7 linked regions of the Homo sapiens genome follow. The protein of the gene in region 6 purifies or fractionates together with the protein of the main gene of each other region. This does not show direct contact. Each region holds a gene or a part of one and is shown on either strand. Other genes may lie near its edges. The genes, in order: PPP6R1, RPL10L, PTCD3, DHX30, SAMHD1, MAP3K14 and HERC5.

Region 1 (2,869 bases), on a different chromosome or scaffold from region 6:
TCGTCTTCCTCCTCCTCCTCGTCCTCCTCTTCTTCGTCCTCACTGTCTGTGCTGCCTCCACTCCTGCCCCAGAAACCACCTCGTCAGCTAGCTGTGTGGGACAGACCGGCCGACACCCATCCTGTTCCCTGCAGCCCAGGGTCAGCCCAAGGAGAGCGGGCTGGGATGACAGGCAGGTCACAGAAGGGTCCAGGGAGCCTGGGGTGTGACGACACCAGGAGAGGCTGGGAGAGGGAGTTCTGAGCCAACGGCAAGAACACAGGCGGGCAGGGACAGAATGCGGCCGTAAGGAGACCGTCCGTCGCCAGTCATCCGTGGAGGGCAGGCCCTGGGGAAGTGGGCTGAGCCTCAGCCATGGCAACCAGAGCAGACAGACCCACTCACCAGCTCTCAAGCCACCTCCCAGCCGTCACCTCACACGGTCACCACAGTGACAGGCCTTCCCACCAGCAGGCCCACCCTCTGGACAGAGGCTTCACACTACTCTCTCCCTCCAACTAGAAACTCCAAGAAGGCAGAGATGGCTGAGTTTTGCCACTGCTGTATCCTCAGCCCTGAGAAACCACCAGGCACCCATAGCTGCTCCAAAAACACTGGCTGAATGTTGACTAACACACACCTGTGAGCATGAAGAAAATCCAAGCAACCTACGTGCTGATCAACCGGGGAAGGGGTAAGCAAAGTAACACTAAAACTAAGCTTTAACAACGAGGGTGCACTCTGAAAAACGCCATCATTAGGCGATTTTGCTATTGTGTGAACATTCTAGAGTGCACTTACACACACCTGGATGGTGGCGCCTCCTGTACACCTAGGCTCTGTGGTATAGCCTATTGTTCCTAGACTACCGACCTATACAGCATGTTACAGTACTGAATACTACAGGCAATTCTAACAATGGTAAATGTTTGTGTATCTAAACATAGGAAAAATACAGCAAAAATAGAGGATTATAATCTCACGGGACCACTGTCATATGTGGTCCATCGCTGACCCAAAGATGCAGTATGGGACTATATACTATGTCTAAAATGCTGACCCAATATTTTTGTCTTAACAGAGTAACTGACTACTTTAACTGGAAAGTAATATATCTGTATATAGTTAAAAGTAAACTAAAATACTCAACGACTAAGGAGTATAAAGGAAGCCCCTCAACCTAACATAAGGCATCTACAAAACCCCACAACTAACAGCATGCTTACATGGCAAAACGCTGAATGCTTCCCCCTAAGATCAGGAACAAAACAAGGATGCCTGTTCTTGCCACTTCTGTTCAACATTGTCCCGGAGGCTAGCCAGGGCAACCAGGCAAGAAAAGGAAATTAAAATCATCCAGATTTGAAAGGAAGGAAAATGAACTCTATTCACATGACATGATTCTGTACATAGAAAATCCTAAGGAGTCCACTAAAACTATCAGAACTCATACATTAGTTCAGCAAGGTTGCAGGATGAAAGATCAACATACAAAAACCTATTGTATTTTCATATACTTGTAACAATCTGAAAACAATTTCAAGAAAATTCCATTTACAATAGTAACAGAAAGAAGAAAACAGGAATAAACTTAAAAGAAATACAAAGCCTCATACTCTAAAACCTACGAAACATTGTTGAAAGAAATTTTAAGACCTATATAAAAAGACATCCATGTTCACGTATTAGAAGACGCAAGGTGGCTTCTTGGTTGAAATTGACAAGCTGATCCTAAAATTCATATGGAATCTCAAGAAATCCCAAATAGGGCAAAACAATCTTTAAAAAGAAGAACAAGGTTGGAAAACTAAAACCTCCCATTTTCTTTTTTCTGTGAGATGGAGTTTCGTTCTTGTCACCCAGACTGGAGTGCAATGAATGGTGCGATCTCAGCTCACTGCAACCTCTGCCTGCCAGGTTCAAGCGATATTCCTGCCTCAGCCTCCTGAGTAGCTGGGATTACAGGCACCCACCACAGCCGGCTAATTTTTGTATTTTTAGTAGAGATGGGGTTTCACCATGTTGGCCAGGCTGGTCTCAAACTCCTGACCTCAGGTGATCCATCCACCTTGGCCTCCCAAAGTGCTGGGATTACAGGTGTGAGCCACCGTGCCCAACAAACCTCCCATTTTCAAAACTTACTATAAAGCAACAGCAACCAGGCCAGTGTGGTACTGGATAAAAACAACACACAGACTGATAGAACAGAACAGAGAGGGAAGAAACAAACTCATACATATGGTCAAATATTTCCTTTTTACACAGGTGCCAAGATGATTCAGTGGAGAAAGGACAGTGTCTTCAACAACTGGTGCAGGGAAAACTGGTTATCTATATGTAAAGGGATGAAGGTGGACCACCTCACATCATATACAAAATTTAGCTCAAAATGAATGGAAAACCATAGAAATAATGCTATAAAACTCTTAGAAGAAAAGAGAGGGCTAAGTCAAGATGCTGGATTTGGCAGTGACACACTTGTGCACCAACAACACGTGCAAGGGTATTCACAGCGGCCGCACTCACAGCGGCTGCACTCACAGCAGCGAGCAACAGGAACCTGCCCAAAGGCCTGTCAACTGCAGAACAAGCAATTCAGCTGCAGCTCATCATGCATGGCACTGCCCCACTGCACGAGAGCCAGGGGCACCCAAACACACAACAGGGAAGGAGCTCACAAGCAGAGTGTTGAGCAACAGAGGTCAGACATAAAAGGAGATGCTGTATGCTATATCAAGTGAAAACAGAGACAAAACTCATCTACAGGGTTAGAAGCCAGGACAACTTTACCCTCAGAAGGGAGGATACTGGCTAACAGAGGGGATGTGGGTACTGGGAAGGTCCTGCTCCTGGGTCTGGGCACTGAGGAAGGATATCCATTGGCCACACA
Region 2 (2,477 bases), on a different chromosome or scaffold from region 6:
GTGAGACAATGTAAAGTTCGTCTGGAAAAGCCTTTCAGAGTGATACTCAATTGTCCTAAGGCTGATAATCAGACGTGTAAGGTAATTCTAAAAACAATGTACAGAAATTTATAGAAAAACATAAGGCAACCAAGTTTAGAAATAAATTACTTCCAAAGAGGCTGTGGGTGAAATATCACTAATGCCTACTATTATTTTCATCGCTACTGTTTAGTTTATATTCTATAAACAAATTTTTTCACTCAAATCTATTTTTTATTCAAGGAATGATAGCTGCATAACTTATGACTTTACTACAAACAAAACTTTCAACATATTGCTCTATACTCTCCTAAATTTAAAGTGTTTGCTTAAAACAGCTTTCTCTATAAATTGTATAGTTTTACTGAAGCAAGGAAGGTAACATTTGCCATTAAAACTGAATAAATAGAAAAAAATTCTCTAGTAGTCTATATTCTAAAACATTGGATATTTAAAAAATATTAAAACTTAATAAGGAGTTATTTTTTGCCAGTAAACAGAATTTATTAGTAAGCATAAGTCAGACCAGCATGGCCCAAGGAGACAGTACTGCCAAAACCTTCATGAGTGCAGAACCCGCCACTTGTCCAAGGGGCCATGACTGGGAACGTACTTGACTCCACAACCATCAGGGATGAGGCACTTCTTGGCCACCATGTCTTCAAATTCGTCAGCATTAAACTTCGTGAAGCCCCACTTCTTGGAGATATGAATCTTCTGGCGTCCAGGGAACTTGAACTTGGCCCTGCGCAAGGCTTCAATCACATGCTCCTCGTTCTGAAGCTTGGTGCGGATGGACATGATGACTTGACCAATGTGGACCCGGGCTACAGTACCCTGGGGTTTTCCAAAGGCACCTCGCATACCTGTCTGGAGCCTGTCAGCCCCAGCACAGGACAACATCTTGTTGATGCGGATGACATGGAAGGGATGGAGCCGCACTCGCATGTGAAAGCCATCTCTGCCACAACTTTTCACCATGTATTTGTTGGCACAAATACGGGCGGCCTCCAGGGCTTCAGAAGACAGCTGCTCATATTCATCAGACACCATGTGGCCACCGAGTGGGAACTCATCCACTTTTGCCTTCTTTCTACCCAGGTCAAAGATGCGGATCTTGGCATCAGGAACCCCTCGGCAGAAACGAGATTTTGGGTACGGCTTGTTCTTACAATACCGGTAACAGCGAGCTGGACGGCGCCCCATGGCGACACAGTAACGTCGGCGGTGCCTCGAAGTCAAAATGCGCTCTCTTAACTACGCCTGCGCGCATTTATATACGTTGCCCCTCGTCCCTCGCGGGAACCATAGAGTCCTGAGGCCGGAACCATAGAGTCCTGAGGAGGATGTGACGACTCTCTTTCAGGACGTCCCAACCAGAGACGCAGGGACGTCTGGCGCCTCAGCGCCTGCGCCAAGTGGCGCGCTTAAGGTGAGCAGAGTCAGCTGTGGGTAGACTCCCCCTGGCGGCCAGGGAAGGAATTGGGCCCCGCCCCAACTGCACAGCTGCTGCTTCCTTTCTGCTAGCCATCTTGGGCTAGGAACTCTTGCTTTCAGCTTTGCTTTAAGTATAAAAGAGGTTATTTCCAGGCAGGAGAATCTCTTGAGCTCAGGAGTTCGAGGCCAGCCTGGGCAATATAGTGAAATGCTGTCTCTACAAAAAAAAAAATATATATATATCAAATAGCTGGGCATGGTGGCACATGCTTGTAGTCCCAGCTACTCAGGAGGCTGAGGTGGGAGGATCGCCTGGGCCCTGCAGGCAGAAACTGCAGTGAGCTGAGATAGCACCACTGCACTCCAGCTTGAGTGACAGAGGGAGACCCTGTCTAAAGAAAAAGAAAAAAAGAAATCCTAGAATTTGAGAGGAAAAATCCTTCCAGTTATTCAACATGCTGTTTCCAGTTTGGTCAGTTCATTTTCCAGAGCTTGTATCTCACTGTCAGCATTTGTAGATCAATTGCTGTTTCTTGGGTTATGTGGCCACCTTCCCTGGATAAAGTGGTTTCTTGGCATGAGTGCTTTGATGAGACTCAGGAAGAGATGAGAGGAAGAGAAGAGAGAGGGATAAAGAGAAGATATCTGTTGTATCTGTAGCTTGGCAATTGTTTTATAAACATGAAACTTTGTTTTTTCTTTATTTGGCCTAAAGAAATGATTTTATTATCAAAATGATATATACAAAATTGAAACACCAACTAGATTTTTTTTAACTTAAGGCTATTTGCATTTTCAAATGTTAAAGCTGCTGAAACTATATAAAAGAGTAACAGTTTGTGTTTTAGTAATCTTTTGCCCCTGAGAATAAATTTAAACTTTTTTTCTTCTCAGAGTTTGTAAAAATATTATGACAGGGATCAGAGTGTAGGAAAGGAGGAAGAAGAGAGAGGAAAAGAAATTAATAGTTTACAAACCCTACTTGCATTTTTCTAGTTTTCTTTTTTGTTTTAATGTTG
Region 3 (3,500 bases), on a different chromosome or scaffold from region 6:
AATAAAGGGATTTGATAATTTTATTTTAAATTTTTTTTTTTTTTTTTTTTTTTGAGACAGAGTCTCACTAACTCACCCAGGCTGGAATGCAGTGGCAGGACCTTGGCTCACTGCAACTTCTGCCTCCCAGGTTCAAGAGATTCTCTTGCCTCAGCCTCCTGAATAGGTAGGACTACAGGTGCCACCATGCCTCGTAATTTTTGTTTTTGTTGTTTTGGTAGAGACAGGGTTTCACCATGTTCACCATGCTGGTATCGAACTCCTGACCTCAAGCAATCAGCCTCCCTCGGTCTCCCAAAGTGATGGGATTAGTGATGGGATTACAGATGTGAGCCACTGCTCCTGGCCAATAATTTTATTCTTAAAAAAAAAAAAAAAAGGCCGGGCACTGTGGCTCACATCTGTAATCCCAGCACTTTGGGAGGCCAAGGCGGGTGGATCAGGAGGTCAGGAGATGGAGACCATCCTGGTGAGCACAGCGAAACCCCGTCTCTACTAAAAATACAAAAAAATAGCCAGGCGTGGCGGCGGGCGCCTGTAGTCCCAGCTACTCGGGAGGCTGAGACAGGAGAATGGCATGAACCTGGGAGGCAGAGCTTGCAGTGAGCCGGGACTGTGCCACTGCACTTCAGCCTGGGCGACACAGCAAGACTCCGTCTCAAAAAATAAATTAAAAAAAAAAAAAAAAAAAAGTTTGGCGCAGTGGCTCACACCTGTAATCCCAGCACTTTGGGAGGCCAAGGCAAGTGGATCACCTGAGGTCAGGAGTTCGAGACCAGCCTGACCAACATGGAGAAACCCCGTCTCTACTTAAAATACAAAATTAGTTGGGCGTGGTGGCACATGCCTGTAATCCCAGCTACTCAGGAGGCTGAGGCAGAAGAATTGCTTGAACCCAGGAGGTGGAGGTTGCGGTGAGCCGAGATCGCGCCATTGCACTGCAGCCTAAGGCAACAAGAGCAAAACTCTGTCTCAAACAAAACAAAACAAACAAACAAACAAAAAACAGATGGGGGTCTTGCTACATTGCCCAAGCTGGTTTTGAACTCCTGATGTCAAGTGGTCTTCCTACTTTGGCCTCCAAAAGTGTTGGGATCACATTCATGAGCCACCTGGCTCAGCTGGATTAGACAATTTTTTTTTTTTTGAGACAGAGTCTCGCTCTTTCGCCCAGGCTGGAGTGCAGTGGCGCGATCTCTCCTCACTGCAAGCTCTGCCTCCTGGGTTCACGCCATTCTCCTGCCTCAGCCTCCCAAGTAGCTGGGATTACAGGTGCCTGCCACCACGCCTGGCTAATTTTTTATATTTTCAGTAGAGACGGGGTTTCACTGTGTTAGCCAGGATGGTCTCGATCTCCTGACCTTGTGATCCACCTGCCTCGGCCTCCCAAAGTGCTGGGATTACAGGCGTGAGCCACCGCGCCCGGCCTAGACAATTTTAAAGAAACTTTCTAGACGCACAACAGTTTAATTCTGAGTAATGACGAGGTATGAGTATTAAATGTGTTATTAGCCGAGTTAAAAAGTGTGTTATTAGCCAAGTTTTAGGTTAAAAAAAAACACAAAATCCTACTTACCCTGTTTACTGTGGATGCAAGTGCCTGAAGAACGGCTACTTTATCCCTAAAAATAAGAACCACAAGTTAATCCTCATCAGGGCTCTTCATAGCCACAAACCGAACAAGTGATTCTACTCTCAGTGTACTGGCCAATAACATAGTGCAGATCTCATCTGAAGCTGGTTATGTCACAAGGTCACTAGAATAAATTAGAAATTAAGAAAACTGCTGGTTCTTTCCCCTAGTTGGTACATGTTCCTCTCTTTGCCTGTCCTCTCTGGCCTGGTGCATAATGCCATAACCCAGGGCTAGTGATTTCCATCCCGCCCTCATAAAACTATCTGGCCTACTTCCTCTACCCACTTTCCTATGGATTCTTACTGCAGCTTTCGGGACTACTGTTGCCTTTACTATCCTAATTGGTAGCTCTTGATTCAGTTATAGGAGAATAAACCACAGGCTTCACTCTGGACCTATTGCATCAAAGCCTCCCAAGATCCATGGAGGACTGTCACACACACTCTTACTGAATTCCCAGATAATTCTGATGCAACCTCCTGGTTTAGAACCTCTCAACCATATATAACGTTATGGTAAGAATTGCAGGCCAGCTGTCCACTGCACCTCTGAGTAGAGACCTTTACTGAACTATTAGAAAAGGCTTCACTGGAATAAATGACAGACAAGATAATTTGATCTCAAATATATTTGTGCTCCTATGTTAGATTTAATGTGTTTCCTTTCCAAAAGGGAATTATACCAAGAGTATTTTTCTAAATAAAGTTTAACATAACATTCTTAAGACTATAAGTCATCTGAGAAAAACAAAAGTACAGGAAATTTTATATTTCATCAAAACTAATTCCCTGATGTACATAATATCCACTAAATTTTCTATCCACGTTTAGAAGTCACATTTATGTAATTTCAGCAAGTGTGATAACGACACATTCTCTCATCTGTCAGCATTCCTTCAGCAGATCTTTTATTGCCCTATTTAAGTCTTATCAAGTTAGCAAACTTTCCTAACATATTGAACAAATGGCAGTGAAAAAATGATGACATTCAGATTACTCACTAATTCTCTTTCTTTAAAGGGTTACTTTAAAAGGTATCATACATTATCTTAAAAAAATAAACTAGAACATTACACGTTAACCTAAAGTGTCTGGTGTCATCTTGTGACCCCTCTCCACGATGAATTTGGTATTTGTATTTCCAGAACTTTTAAAGGTATTTTCACACATAAACATCTCCCTAAAAAACGTATACACACTGTCATTCTGCATGTGTCTACATAAGTTTGGCTGCACTATCCATGTTATTAAATATAGAGCTAATTAATTCCTTTCAATGTAAAAAGTTATTGTATGATAACCTTTTAAAATTATCCATTCACTTTTCAATGGGCATTCAGGCTGTTTCAACCTGTTACTATTCCCAAGTAATAAAGAACAGTCTTGTCCATGTATATATGCAAATGTTCCTCCAAAGTGGCTAACCAGTAAGGTACGCACATTTCCAATTCTGATTCTGCCAAATTTCCCTCCAAAGAGCTGTTCCAATTTACTGTCCCATAAACAAACGTATTTCTTCAAATCCTCTCTCTGCCAATACGGTAAGTTTTAATTTGCACTTCTTTTATGATCCCAGTTACCTATGCATTGACATCACTGGGCTCCCTGGCCTCCCTAAAATAATCACACAGTTCAGATTAATAAAGTTCTTAAAAAAGTCTTTTTAAATGAACCCAAGTCTTTTTTTTTTTTTGAGATGGAGTCTTGCTCTGTCGCCCAGGCTGGAGTGCAGTGGCGCGACCTCGGCTCACTGCAAGCTCCGTCTCCCGGGTTCACGCCATTCTCCTGCCTCAGCCTCCCGAGTAGCTGGGACTACAGGCGACCCCCCACCACATCCGGCTAATTTTTTTGTATTTTTAGTAGAG
Region 4 (3,500 bases), on a different chromosome or scaffold from region 6:
CCCCCAACAGGGGCCAACCCCCTGCCTCTGGGCGTGCTGGCACCATCAGCTATAAGGACCTAAAGGACAGGAATCTGGTCCTCATACCACAGGAGGTGCCAACACAAGCTCCTTGCTGCAGGAACAGGCTTCTGCCCTCTCCCCAGACTTCATGGGTTTTACCCACCAGCCTCACTGACAAATGGCCCTCCAGCCACTGCAAAGCTTGCTCCTTCCCAGACAGGCCCCTACCATGCCAAGGTGCTTCTGCTCACAGTGCGTGTGCATCAGGCCAAAGCTCAGATGCCTCCAGTTCTACTCAGTCCTTGTTCTGCCCTCGAGTCACAGGTAGCATATCTGTGCCCTCTTTATCTCACCAATTGCCTGTCCCCTCTTCCTCGTCTTTCTCCAGGTTCTTGTTACCTCTCACCATCAGCTGTAACTAAAACATGGTTCCCAGAGCCAACTGTACCCATGAAATGGTGCACCTGACCATTCAGAGTAAAGCAGGCCCATTTCTATCTTGGTCTGCAAACTAAACCTCCACCAACATGGGTTGAGATTACTAACTCCTCAGGCAGTCAGAGACAATCCCAACTCCCTCCCACTACTGTGCCATCAGCTAACTCCACCAGCCCCTTTCAAGAGAACGGCCATGGCCAGGAGCGGTGGCTCACGCCTGCAATCCCAACACTTTAGGAAGTGAAGGTAGAAAGACTGATTGAGCCCAAGATTTTAAGACCAGTCTTCGCAACACAGTGAGACCCTTGTCTCTACAAAAAATGTTTAAAAATAAGCTGGGAGTGGTGGTGCATACCTATGGTCCCAGCTATGCAGGAGGCTGAGGTGAAAGGATCGCTTAAGCCTAGGAGATCGAGGCTGCAGTGAGCCATGATCGTGCCACTATACTCCAGCCTGGGCCACAGAGACCCTGTCTCAAAAAAAAGAGAACTGCCAGCTGTCTGCCACACTGTCTCTACCTTGATCCTGACTGCTTCCTCAATCATCACTGCAGTCACAAGTCACATTATTCATTCTGCCCACAAAACCCGGGTTATCAGGATCATACTGGACACCAGGTCTGCCTCTCAAAACAGGCCCGGCTCCTCCCGGCTTTATACTATTCAGAACAATGAGCAAGTTTCCTCCCGGCCTCACCAGGTTCAGGCCAACAGTGTGGAAAATGCTGGGTCACGGGCAAAGTATCTCCACAGGGCCTCTGGAAAAGCCATGGCAACAGCCACAGGGCCTACAAGCGAGGCCTGCATACCAGCTGTCTTTGTGCCAGGCAAAAGGCCTGCTGTGGTGGTTTCATTTCCTAGAAAATGGGACCCATTTGCCACTGGCAGAGGGGAGCTTCAAGACATTCTCATGCACCACACCCAGGACCTTCCTGGACTCACCTTCAGTTTCTTGCAGGCCAAGGCTGCCGCCTTATTCTCAGCCTCTGCTTTGCGGCGCCCTTTGGCAACAAAGGTCATGGGGCAGGGCCAGAGCAGGGTGAGTGTAGACAGCTTGGTCTTGGTGCCCACAGTATGGAACTGCATGAGGTTCTACATGGAAGGCAAGAGAGATGGTTACAGAAATGTAGGGAATGGGAAGAGACTTGGGGCATTCTCAGAATGCCAAGGAGCCCAGAGACAGAATGAGCCACCATCTCAGCAGGTGCCAGGCGTGAGCCATGCTAGAGGTGCTGCTGCATAGCCAGGAGCAGGCCCATGGGCTCAGGCACCCTAGTCCCAGGCTCGCTTCTCCTGCTATACCTCGACTTCCACTGCAGAAGACAGTGCTTGGGCAATGCCATCACCTGCCCTCCTAGCCCACTGTCATCTCGGCAACATCGTGGCAGCTGTGGGTTGAAGCTGTCAGCATGAGCTAAAAACCAGGCACATCCTGCGGGAGCAAAAAGACCCTGCACCTGGACAGAAGCTCTGCTTAACTGTTGTACTTAGGCGAGTTAAGGAAACGCCACACTTTGAGACGAATTAAGAGTCCTTTATTAAGCCGGCGGCCAAAGAGACAGCTAATGCTCAAAATTCTTTCGGCCACGAGGAAGGGGCTCGATTAACTTTTATACTTAGGTTTAGGAAGGGGAGGGGGACTTAAATGTAATAATTCTACAGAAGTAAAAACATGCAAGAATCAAAAGAATCAAAATGGTTACAGAGTGATAAACAACTTAAAAGACAAATGGTTACAAGAAGAGCAACAGTACCAGGTGCAAGATTCTAAATCTTTCATTATAATTAGATATAGGGTCTACGCCAGACACGAACTCAAGGTTTTATGTTGTTATCTCTTGGAGAAAATTCCTGGGAACTTCATATATTGTTGGTGTTCGTACCTTATCAGTTAATTAGGCTCCTTTGAAATGCTGAGGATCTGTTTACCCAGGCCAACTCCTTACGAAAGGGGGTTGGGTGAGGAGCCCTTAGTGTCTTGTAAATTAAGGGGTCAATTGGGGTTTGTACGGCTTTCTTAGCTAGAGAGAGTCTTATTTTACATGAGAAGCAAGGCTAGGTGATTAAAGAGACAAGCAGGACAAAATTCAAAGCAACGAGTTAAAGTAAAAACAAGGTTAGGCATTTCATGACCAAAGCCCCTTCGCCTGGCAGCAAGAGAGAAATTCATACCTCACCAAGACCCACACCTCTAACCCTTCCCCACTGACAATCCACCGCCCAGAAGAGGTATGGGTCTTCTGCTCTTGCGGCCCCCAAGCCCACTCCCTGTGCTGCTGAGGCTTGACCTCCATTCCATCACACCTGCTGCTTTTCCTCCCAAGCAGGAGTTCCTCCACCTGGCCTAGGTTTGGGCTGGAGGAACACACCCCCTCAGCCCTCTCTAAACCTGCCTTTAGGGAACACCAGACATGACCAAGTAAACGGCCCCCACACAAACTTCTAGGAGACCCAACTCACCTTAGCTGTGGAGGATGACGTTGCAATCTGAATCACCTTGGCCAGAAGGTTCTTGGGAAGTGGAAACTGGGTCAGAGCCCTAATGGCACTGTCGTCATCTGTCATCTCAAAGGAACTCCCCCTGGGAGGACCAAAAGTTTAACTGAAAGAATTCTCTCTTCCTGGACCAATTTCCCTGAGGCTCTGCGATGTAGGGGTGAGGACGCTGCGCTGCAGCAGGGAGCCAGAAGGGCAGAAGGCATGAAATGGATGGGAAACCGGGCGTCTCTGCTCCTCCCACAGCCACACTGCATGGGGACTGCTCCCTCCATTCCCTCACACAGATAAGATAGCAGAGAGCAGGGGCTCCATGCTGCTGTTCTGCAAAAGCCCAGCCACATAGAAGACCACAGCTGGCTGTCCCCCAAGAATGGGCAGACACACACTGAGTGATGGGGCACACAGGCTGAAATGTGAGGCAGGGGCGCTCCCATCTCAGAGAAAGCTAGCAGAGAACATTCGCCCATCCCCGTGTCAAGGCACAGCCAGCCTCTGCTGCATCCCCATCCTCCATCTGTACCTTGAGTCCCTGAGTGGAGCGTGGGAATCCTGCTGGGTCAT
Region 5 (3,500 bases), on a different chromosome or scaffold from region 6:
TAATTTTCTGTATCACTATCTATAAAATTTACTAAGCGTTAATCATATGCTTCAACACTTTATGTACATCATCTCATTATTGTTATCCATTTTACAGGTACAGAAACTGAAGGGTTAAATGACTTCTCCCAAATTATACAACTAAAAAGTGCCTGTTTTGCATAGTGTCTTTAAATCTAATACCAGGGCATATTCCAATCTTTAGGAAAACCTAGAAATATGCTCAAGATAGGGGTGTAGCCTTGATTTTCTTACTAACATTTTTTTCCCTATTGGTTCTTATGTATTTCCCAGTGTGTATAATTCAATTATTCTGAACTTGAGAGTAAAAAGTTGGTCACTACAAACTTGATGAAGATTTGTCTGCAACATTATTTAAAATAGGAATAAGGCCACACACGGTGGCTTATGCCTGTAATCTCAGCACTTTGGGAGGCCAAGGTGGGCAGACCTTGGCCCACCTTAGGTCAGAACTCCAGACCACCTTAGGTCAGGAGTTCGAGACCAGCCTGGCCAACATGGTGAAACCCTGTCTCTACTAAAAATACAAAACTTAGCTGGGCATGGTGGTGCATGCCTGTAATCCCAGCTACTCAGGAAGCTGAGGCAGGAGAATGGCTTGAACCCAGGGGGTTCAGTGAGCCGGGATCGCACCATTGCACTCCAGTCTGGGTGACAGAGTGAGACTCTGTCTCAATAAATAAATAAATAAATAAAATTAAAAATAAACTAAAATAGGAATAAACAGTAATAGCAAACATAGGATTTGTACAGCGAAAACAAACAGCAGGTGGCCAGTCGCGGTGGCTCACACCTGTAATCTCAGCACTTTGGGAGGCCGAGGCAAGCGGATCACTTGAGGCCAAGAGTTCAAGACCAGTCTGGCCAACATGGTGAAACCCCATCTCTACTAAAAGTACAAAAATCAGTGGGGCAGCCGGGCGCGGTAATTCCAGCACTCTGGGAGGCTGAGGCGGGCAGATCACGAGGTCAGGAGATTGACACCATCCTGGCTAACATGGTGAAACCCTGTGTCTACCAAAAAATACAAAAAAGTAGCCAGGCGTGGTGGCAGGCGCCTGTAGTCCCAGCTACTCGGGAGGCTGAGGCAGGAGAATGGCATGAACCCGGGAGGCGGAGCTTGCAGTGAGCCAAGATCACGCCACTGCACTCCAGCCTGGGAGACAGAGCGAGACTCTGTCTCAAAAAAAAAAAAAACCGAAAAAAAATTAGTGGGGCATGGTGGTGGGCACCTGTAATCCTAGCTACTCAGGAGGCTGAGGCAGGAGAATAACTTGAAGCCGGGAGGCAGAGGTTGCAGTGAGCCGAGATACTCCAGCCTGGGTGAACAAGAGACTATCTCAAAAAACAAATGAACAAACAAAACCAGCAGGCAAGGGATTCTGCTGTTTTAAAGCACTTCATAGATTTAAAATGAGGACAGTTTATATCAGAGATTTTGGGCTTTGTCCCTGAAAGATGGATAAAGTGTGTTTGGTTATAACGTGAATTTATTTCTTCATTCTTACCTTACTCCAAGATTTTCAAAACGAGACTCATCAAGACAAGGCAGTAATGCGCCTGTGATTTCATTTTCTATGGAAGAAAAAAGACAAATTCAATGTATACAACATATGCTTTTCATTTTCTTTCAATTTGGATACACCAACATTTACCCAGATCCACATAAGTGAGTACCCACTGCAGGCAATGGATTGTGCCAAGTACCACTTTTTTGATCTGCTACTTGTAAAGACTTAATTTTAATTAAATAACTAAACCAAGAAGCATTTTTTGATAAATCACGTGAAAATTTCAAAATTATTTGTGTAAATTAGTTCCAAGAAAAACCAGTTGCAAAAAGGAAAGTGAAACCCGACTACCTGTTGGGGTTTTGCCAGGTCAGCAGCTTTGAGTTGGGGAGGGAAGGAAACCTAAGTCTATTGTTCTTAGAATTAACAAGGTTTGAGTTGGGGAGGGAAGGAAACCTAAGTCTATTGTTCTTAGAATTAACAAGTTAAAACCGTGAATTCAAGAGTGCTTAAAGTGTTGATTTTTCTCAAACCTCCTGGGAAAGCACTCAATACTCTGATTTGGAAGAGGTGTGTGTGTGTGTGTGTGTGTGTGTGTGTGTGTGTGTGTCCTGGGAAAGCACTCAATACTCTGATTTGGAAGAGGTGTGTGTGATTTGGAAGAGGTGTGTGTGTGTGTGTGTGTGTGTGTGTGTGTGTGTCCTGGGAAAGCACTCAATACTCTGATTTGGAAGAGGTGTGTGTGTGTGTGAGTGTGTGTGTGTGTGTGTGTGTCCTGGGAAAGCACTCAATACTCTGATTTGGAAGAGGGGTGTGTGTGTGTGTGTGTGTGTGTGTGTGTGTGTGTGTGTTGTTGGGTTTTTTCCTTTCTCTTTCTATACAATTAATTCTAATCTTTCCTGACCTCAAATTCCAGAACTCTGGACTATTTTCTTTTATTTTCTTTGAGACAGGGTTTTGCTTGTTGCCCAGGTTGGAGTGCAGTGGTGCGATCACATCTCACTGCAGCCTTGACCTCCTGGGCTCAAGCGATCCTCCTGCCTCAGCCTCCTGAGTAGCTGGGACCACAGGCATGTGCCACTGCACCTAGCTAATTTTTATTTTTATTTTTTGTAAAGTTGAGGTCTCCTGATGTTGCCCAGGCTGGTCTTGAATTCTTGGGCTCAAGTGATCTTCCCACACTGGCCTCCCAAAGTGCTGGGATTATAGGTATGAGCCACTGGGCCAGGCCTCCAGTGGTTTTTGATGAGAATACTTGTTAAGGTATAGATCACATGAGTTCTAGAGTCCAAAGACCTAACCTTAAAAAATCTAGCTCTTTTTTGTAGTGGTGTGATCTCTGAAAAGTTACTTTACATCTTTGGACCTCGCATACATCATCGGTAAAATGTGTTGAGTGTAGTAACTTATTTCAGACTTCTTGTGAGGCTGTATTCCATAATGAGAAAAGGGACACTGTACCTTGTGCTTGGCTTATCAAATTAAAAAAAAAATGGACTTAGATAAAGAGAGACTTTTTTTTTCTTTTCCGAGATGGAGTCTCACTCGGTCGCCCAGGCTGGAGTGCAGTGGCGGGATCTTGGCTCACTGCAACCTCCGCCTCCCAGGTTCAAGTGATTCTCCTGCCTCAGCTTCCCAAGTAGCTGGGACTACAGGCACATACCACCATGCCCGGCTAATTTTTGTATTTTTAGTAGAGACGGTGTTTCACCATGTTGGCCAGGCTGGGCTTGAATTCCTGACCTCAGGTGATCTACCTGCTTCGGCCTTCCAAAGTGCTGGGATTACAGGCGTGAGCCACCGTGCCCGGCCAAGAGAAACTTTATTAGAAAGAAAGACTATTGCTGGTCGGGCGTGGTGGCTCACACCTGTAATCCCAGCACTTTGGGAGGCCAAGGCGTGTGAATCATCAGGTCAAGAGATTAAGACCATCCTGGCCAACATGGTGAAACCCCATCTCTACTAAAA
Region 6 (3,500 bases):
CACTTACAGGGGCCACCATCCAGATATGACATCATGACATCATGCTTCACCCACAAGGAAGAGCCTCTCACTGAGAGGAGCCAGGCAGATCAGCTAGGATAACACCCAGAGTATGCATGCACCTCCTGCACAGAAGAAAGATGCAGAAGAGCTTCGTGCACTGTGGGTTTGGACCCCTGTAATCAATCATTGAAAGTTACTAAATACCCACTCTAGGTGAGATACTGCTTGGCTAGGTAGGAAAGTGCCCTAAAGGTGTGGGCAACCTTTGAGACTTCCTGGTAATTGTATTTTCTTATCAACCTTGACCTCCTTTTGATTACATGAACCTCATGGTATAAGACAGCGTCCAACAAATAGCTTTCTGTTTACTTTTTCTTAGACCCAGGGCAGCAGCTGCTGTGGCTCCACCCTTCCCAGGCCTGGCAGAGCTTGCAGAAAGGCTGAGAGTGATAGGGTTGTGGTAGGGGAATAAAAGGAGAAGCTAGTTTAAAAAAAAAAATCCTGCTTCAGGATTAGTTCCTTCGTTCCCTGGCAGCAGAGTACAGTGAAGAGTCTGGGTTTTATAGTTCAGGCTCTGCCATTAACTAGCTGTGTGGCCTTGGGCAACCCACTTGGCTTTCTTGGGCCACCATTTTCTCTTCTGCATTTTCTCACTGCAAAAAATGTGAATGATCATGTCCAGGCTATAATCCTAACAGCTCTTTCTGGACAGTGAGGTTAAGGTTATTTAGCCATGCCAGCAGGAGGTGACTACTGGTTGGTCCAGACTGATGGGGTATGGGTACAGGGGCTGGGTTGGTAGTCTGCCAGAGACAGGGAACGAGATTATTTGCAAGAGCTGCAGCTTCATTAAAGTCAAGCCCTCCTTGTAGTTGGTCCTGGACATTGCTTATAGATGTCCCTGACCATAATCGGTCAAGTTCAACACCAACTGCACTAGTCCAGAACAGTGTCTGAAGAAAATCTCTGCGTTAATGGACACCTGATAGTGGCTTTAGCAGAAAGAGCGTCAGGAGAAGCTGTAGTAACCAGAACCTGGGAGGGAGGGATGGCTCAGGAGTACCCCCTGCTGCTTCTTTCTTGGTACAAATCCTGGTCCTAGAAGTGTAGACAACTGAGATGGTGGCAGGCTTGGGATTCCTAAAGCTTTCTGAAATCCAGGGTTTAATCTAGCCTTTACAATCGCTGGAGCTCTGCAGAGACTCCAACTCAGGTGGCTGAAAAGGAGGCAGGTGGAAAAGCGTTCCTAAAAGGTTTTTCACACCAAAATAGGGCTTGTCTCTCTGCTCTCTGCCAAGGGATTTCCCAGCTCCCCAGGGCCAAAGCTCCCCTCCTGCTTCTTTGCTGACTGTCACTGGAAGCAGGCCATTTTCCACCCTCAGGGTGGCTGGACTTAGGAGTCAGTGACACTGCTGATCTGGGCTCTGTGCCCCGTCCACGATCCCCCCTCCGCTGTCAGCCCACTGGCCCCAGAAGCCTCCTGTTTACCTCCTGCCCCCTGCCTCCATAGCCCTGGGGCTGGGATGAGGCTGATTTGTGGCAGAGGGCTCCTCACGAAGGTCTGCTCAGGACTTTCTCTGCAACTGTGCTGGGGAATAAATCGCCTGTCACCTACACCCCTGCATGGGTGACTCACCTTCCAGAGAAAGTGCTCTGCTCACCTAAGCAAAGCTGCTTGGAAAATGACTAAGGCACCTATCAAATGCACTCTGTGGGGCCAACCAGTTATGGAGCAAGGTCCAGGCACACTCTGCCTCTCACCTCCAGCCTGAAGTCAAGTGCAGAGCTGCCACGCCAGGCCTGCTGGTTTCATTTTCATCTGAACCGAGCTCCACATGAGGCTTGACATCCGGTGATCTATTTTTTCTAAAAACTAGCTTCACTTTAGAAATGACTCTTCGGCCATCAAGTCAGCTTCCCCAAGAGAAAACAAAATGTTATTTAAAGGGAACAGTAGCCTGGTGAGAGCCTATATTTTTGTTTTGTATTAAGGTGAAAAAAGACTTTAAAATATAACATGAAACTTTTTTTTTCCCTTGTGAGATTAAAACAAACGTTTTTCTTTCAAGAGATGGGGTCTCGCTATGTTGCCCATAGCTACTTGACCTCCTGGGCTCAAGTGATCCTCCCGCCTCAGCCTCTCAAGTAGCTGGGACTAAAGAAACACACGTCACCATTCCAGGCTTCTTGTGAGATTTAAAGGGGAATCTGCAAGTCCTTGACTGCAGATCGTGGGCCCCCAGACAGAGTCTCAGAGAGAAGCTGACAAAGACATCTTTACGAGGGGGAAAGGGTGGTGAGCTGGGGATGCCATGTGGTAGTGGGAACCTCATCCCACAGAACCAAATGTTCCCTCCTGTTCCCCCAAAGAACAAGTCCTTGCTGATCTACATGCCATACAGTATTTTCCCTTTCCTCACCTCCAGGATTAATGCAGGAACCTACTTGATCACGTGTGGGACACAGGAAGCCCCTAGACAGGCCTAGCTGTGTCTCCAGCTCAGAGTTAGGATTGTCAACTGGGCAGAGCCTGGACCTTTGTAGCCTCATTTGGAGTATGGTGAGGGCAGTATATAGTGTAAGACAGGGAGAACCCGAGAGCTGAAGCTTTTAGACTGAAGGACTGTCCCCCTAAAGGTCCTACTGAGAAAATGACTCTGGCCTGTCAGGCAGTCTGACCCTTCTTGACATCATCTTACAGAAAACAGGTTTAGTCACAATGCAGTAATTGGCAACTACTACTGCTACTATTACTACTACTACTACTACTACTATTACTACCACCACCAAACACCACCAACAAGAACAACAACAACAACAACAACAGTTACAGCCTCTATGTTCTGTGCTGGGCACTGGGCTCAGCACTTTACATATCTCCTCTCATTTTCTACTCAAAACAGCCCCATGAAGTATTTCTGATCCCATTCACAGATGAGGCACCTGATGATTAGAGAAGTGAAGTGATTTGCTTGCGGGCACACAGGCAGGCCGTGGCAGACCTCGACCTGACCCAGGTCTCTCTGACCTGACAGCCTCAGCCACCACATGTGACACGGAGACACCAAGGACTTGTTCTGTTGCTCTGGACAAATCACGGGCTCTCTGCCTTTGTTTCTACATCTGGAAAATGGGCACAAGCACACCTGTCCAGGCAGCAGGCTATTCATCTTTTGGCCTTTTATTAATTAAAAATCAATATCAATTAATAATTGATTGGTACAATAAATAAATAAAGCTGCTACCCTGGTTTCGTTATGTTCAAAATTGACATGTTTGGGGGAAGAAAATCCTTATCGTTTCATGAGCAAGGTAGTAGAAAAAGCAGTGACCTAGATATCAAGAAAAGGGGGTTTAGATTCTGAGCAATCCTGTCTGTTTCTCCTTATGAGGCTTCACTTTTCTGATCTTTGTCCCTGCCCTTCTTCACATGAGTATGGTGTGAAAATACAAAGACTGGCCATAAAATTATTCTTGATGCCACATAATTTCAAGGG
Region 7 (3,500 bases), on a different chromosome or scaffold from region 6:
CACAGGTGGGTGTACCCTTGTCTCTTTTTGGCTGTATTTTTAGAAGAACAGTTTGTATGGGAAGTTAGTGTTTCCCAGAGAAGAAAGGTCATCACTTCCTGTATGTAGGACTGTCCTTCTGATATTTAGGAGCTTTACTTTGACAGTGCTATTTATTAGTGATTCACTTTGCATCAGTGAATACTACTTTTTTATTTTATTTTTCTAGCATCTGATATGACATTCCCTTTCCTTAGGATGGGCTGCTGTTTACTTTCGGTGCTGGAAAACATGGGCAACTTGGTCATAATTCAACACAGAATGAGCTAAGACCCTGTTTGGTGGCTGAGCTTGTTGGGTATAGAGTGACTCAGATAGCATGTGGAAGGTAAGTTGTAAAGTATCAATAAGAATTGATAAAATGAGTGCAGCAAACTAGATAGTAATTTAATAAAATTTCTTTCAGTTTCTTTGAGATGTATCAAACATTTTCAAATCAGTGAAAATGCTTAATTTATATTATTTAGATAAATGTAATACCCCTTTTACTATACATGGTTGTTTTCTTTGATTTTTTTTTTTTTTTTTTTTTTTAAATGAGCAGATACAATTCACTTTCTGCTGTCTCCTTAGTGAAATACCTTTGTAACTATTCAGGTGCACTTTTGTCTTAAAAAAACAAGTCATTAATTGTTTATTTGGGAAAAATAAAATGTAAATCACAAAGGATTATTCATTAAATGTAATCACCCTCTCTGACAATGCCTTGTGGCCAACATACTTTTTAATTACCAGAGTTCTTTCATTGTAGCCTGCCCTGATCACAGTAAAGTATAAGACATAGTCAGTGATGGTTTGAGTGAAATATTCCTAAGAAGTTTAATTTTCACAGCTCCTTTTTAGAAAAGAAAGGTAAAATGTCTTGCTCAGACTCCTTAGTTTATTTAAAGGTTTTTTGGTTTTCTTGTTTGTTTGTTTGTTTGTTTTTTGGTTTTTGGTTTTTTTTTTTGAGGCAGAGTATTGCTTTGTTGCCCAGGCTGGAGTGCAGTGACGCAATCTCAGCTCACTGCAACCTCCGCCTCCCAGGCTCAGGTTATTCTCCCACCTCAGCCTCTGGAATAGCTAGGATTACAGGCGTGCACTGCCACAACTGGCTAATTTTTAAATTTTATTTATTTATTATTTTTTTTTGAGACGGAGTCTCGCTCTGCTGCAAAGGCTGGAGTGCGGTGGCGCAATCTCGGCTCACTGCAAGCTCCGCCTCCTGGGTTCACACCATTCTTCTGCCTCAGCCTCCGGAGTAGCTGGGACTACAGGCGCCCGCCACCACGCCTGGCTAATTTTTTGTATTTTTAGTAAAGACGGGGTTTCACTGTGTTAGCCAGGATGGTCTCGATGTCCTGACCTTGTGATCCACCTGCCTCGGCCTCCCAAAGTGCTGGGATTACAGGCATGAGCCACTGCACCTGGCCACAACCGGCTAATTTTTGTATTTTTAGTAGAGTCGGGGTTTCACCGTGTTGGCCAGGCTGGTCTTGAACTCCTGACCTCAGGTGATCTGCTCGCCTTGACCCCTCAGAGTGTTGGGATTACAGGGGTGAGCCACCACGCCACTATTTAATTTTTTTGATTATCAGATATATCAGTCCACGTCTTGCCAGAGGGATGTTGGAAGTTGGTAGGATTAAAAAATATTTTCCCCCATATACACTTATTCTTTTGGGCAGTTTTTCCCTCACTAAACGTAGAGCAAAATTCAGACTGTATTTGAATGCTGGGTTCATTTGTTAGTTTACTGAAACCATTCTTATAAAAAACTAGCATGAATACTTTCAGTCTGTAGGCATATTTTCTTATGATCTTGGAGTAGAATTACATAAATGGGTAATATTATTAAGGTAGACCAAATTATCGGAATATGAGTCTCTTCACCAAAGAAGCGTTCTCTTCAATATTTATACCTCATTCGGTATCTCTTAACCAAAGCAGTCTTATCACCTCTTTGGATTCTTCATTACATACAGTCCTTTTGAGTAGCATGTATTACAAGAGAAGGAGGCAAGTTGGAGATCTGTCTTAATGCACATCAGGGCAATACCCCTACTAACAGGACAATTCACTGGAAAGACTCACGAACTTACTAAAAGCTATTATGCTCATAGTCACATTTATTACAAGAAAAGGATACAAACTAGTACCAGTCAAAGGAAGACACATAAGGGCAGGGTATAGGAGGGCTGCAAATGCTGAGCTTGTGGCTGTCACCTCCCCTTGGAGCAGGTGGATGGTGTTATCTCTTCTGGCCTGATAATGTGACAGGACATACAGAATTTGCCAGCCAATCAGAGAAATTCACCCAAGTTGAGAGTTGTTTTTGTTTTTTCTGGTTTTTTTATTTTGGAGACAGGGTACAGGATGTACATAATCTGCCATCTAGTCAGAGGAGTTCACCCAAGTCAAGACCAAGTCAAGAGTTGTTTTTGGTTTGGTGGTTTTTTTTTTTTTTTGAGACAAGGTCTCACTCTGTCACCCAGGCTGGACTGCAGTGGTGCTATCATGGCTTACTGCAGCCTTGACCTCCCAGGCTCAAGCAATCCTCCTGCCTCAGCCTCCTGAGTAGCTGGGACCACAGGTCCACCATGCCCAGCTAATTTTTAAATTTGTTGTAGAGATAGGGTCTCCTTATATTGGCCAGGCTGGTCTTAAACTTCTGGGTTCAAAGTATCCTACTGCCTTGGCCTCCCAAAGTGCTGGGATTACAGGCATGAGCCACCACACCCCACCTAAATTGAGGGGTTTTATTGCTGAGGCATGATTGGTTAAATCATTGCCCGGATAGTTAAACTTAATCTCCAGCACTGCCCTCCTGTAGGTCTGATTTACATCACAGGCCAGGAGAGCTCTCCCAGGATCCTGCCATGAATAATAAAGACTCTCCTCTATCACTTGGGGAATTCTGTGGGTTTAGAGGTTACCTCCTAGGAACAGGGCACCAGCCAGACCTCTCTGGGCAAGGCAGATTCCTTGCTACACAACAGTATAGTGGAATATACAAACCAGCAAATCAATAGGAAAATCAGTGTGGTAAAGGTCTTTGAGAAATTAAGTGGGAACTCAACTGAGTCTTCCAGGATGGAAAGTGAAGGGACTCAGAGATGGTTTCCAAGAGGTGGTGACTCAAACTGATGTTGAAAAATGAGCAGAGGGCAAGGGGAGGTGCTTGTTTCAACAAAGGGAACACCATTTGCCAAAGTATGACATCATGGTCTTGAGTGGCCTTTGGGTTCCAAAGTCTTTTCAGGTACATGTTGATTTCTTGGTTTCCAGATGATTTTCATCCTCTAAGAGATGTTTAGTTTCACTCTCACTGGGTAACATAGTTTTGGCAATTTACTGTATTGCTAAACACTCTCATCATTGTGGATAATTAAGAATTGACCATATGTGCTTTTATTTAATAGGTGGCACACACTTGCCTATGTTTCTGATTTGGGAAAGGTCTTTTCCTTTGGTTCTGGAAA

Evidence for each region.
Region 1: the proteins of MAP3K14 (region 6) and PPP6R1 purify together in Homo sapiens (affinity purification with mass spectrometry; one large-scale study listed by BioGRID and IntAct). This does not show direct contact.
Region 2: the proteins of MAP3K14 (region 6) and RPL10L purify together in Homo sapiens (affinity purification with mass spectrometry; 2 studies listed by BioGRID and IntAct, with this or other methods). This does not show direct contact.
Region 3: the proteins of MAP3K14 (region 6) and PTCD3 purify together in Homo sapiens (affinity purification with mass spectrometry; one large-scale study listed by BioGRID and IntAct). This does not show direct contact.
Region 4: the proteins of MAP3K14 (region 6) and DHX30 purify together in Homo sapiens (affinity purification with mass spectrometry; 2 studies listed by BioGRID and IntAct, with this or other methods). This does not show direct contact.
Region 5: the proteins of MAP3K14 (region 6) and SAMHD1 purify together in Homo sapiens (affinity purification with mass spectrometry; one large-scale study listed by BioGRID and IntAct). This does not show direct contact.
Region 7: the proteins of MAP3K14 (region 6) and HERC5 purify together in Homo sapiens (affinity purification with mass spectrometry; one large-scale study listed by BioGRID and IntAct). This does not show direct contact.

Annotation. Positions count from the first base shown.
Region 1 is NC_000019.10:55,232,149-55,235,017, forward strand, and holds part of PPP6R1 (serine/threonine-protein phosphatase 6 regulatory subunit 1), read right to left. Parts: intron 64-2,869; coding exon 1-63. UniProt on the Homo sapiens protein: Regulatory subunit of protein phosphatase 6 (PP6). May function as a scaffolding PP6 subunit. Involved in the PP6-mediated dephosphorylation of NFKBIE opposing its degradation in response to TNF-alpha.
Region 2 is NC_000014.9:46,650,510-46,652,986, forward strand, and holds RPL10L (ribosomal protein uL16-like), read right to left. Parts: upstream 1,273-2,477; 5' UTR 1,228-1,272; coding exon 583-1,227; 3' UTR 501-582; downstream 1-500. UniProt on the Homo sapiens protein: Testis-specific component of the ribosome, which is required for the transition from prophase to metaphase in male meiosis I. Compensates for the inactivated X-linked RPL10 paralog during spermatogenesis.
Region 3 is NC_000002.12:86,109,235-86,112,734, reverse strand, and holds part of PTCD3 (small ribosomal subunit protein mS39 precursor), read right to left. Parts: intron 1,623-3,500; coding exon 1,577-1,622; intron 1-1,576. UniProt on the Homo sapiens protein: Mitochondrial RNA-binding protein that has a role in mitochondrial translation.
Region 4 is NC_000003.12:47,841,138-47,844,637, reverse strand, and holds part of DHX30 (ATP-dependent RNA helicase DHX30), read right to left. Parts: coding exon 3,460-3,500; intron 3,022-3,459; coding exon 2,901-3,021; intron 1,533-2,900; coding exon 1,383-1,532; intron 1-1,382.
Region 5 is NC_000020.11:36,945,209-36,948,708, forward strand, and holds part of SAMHD1 (deoxynucleoside triphosphate triphosphohydrolase SAMHD1), read right to left. Parts: intron 1,597-3,500; coding exon 1,530-1,596; intron 1-1,529.
Region 6 is NC_000017.11:45,310,521-45,314,020, forward strand, and holds part of MAP3K14 (mitogen-activated protein kinase kinase kinase 14), read right to left. Parts: intron 1,918-3,500; exon of another isoform or gene 1,765-1,917; intron 1-1,764.
Region 7 is NC_000004.12:88,463,619-88,467,118, forward strand, and holds part of HERC5 (E3 ISG15--protein ligase HERC5), read left to right. Parts: coding exon 1-5; intron 6-236; coding exon 237-367; intron 368-3,440; coding exon 3,441-3,500.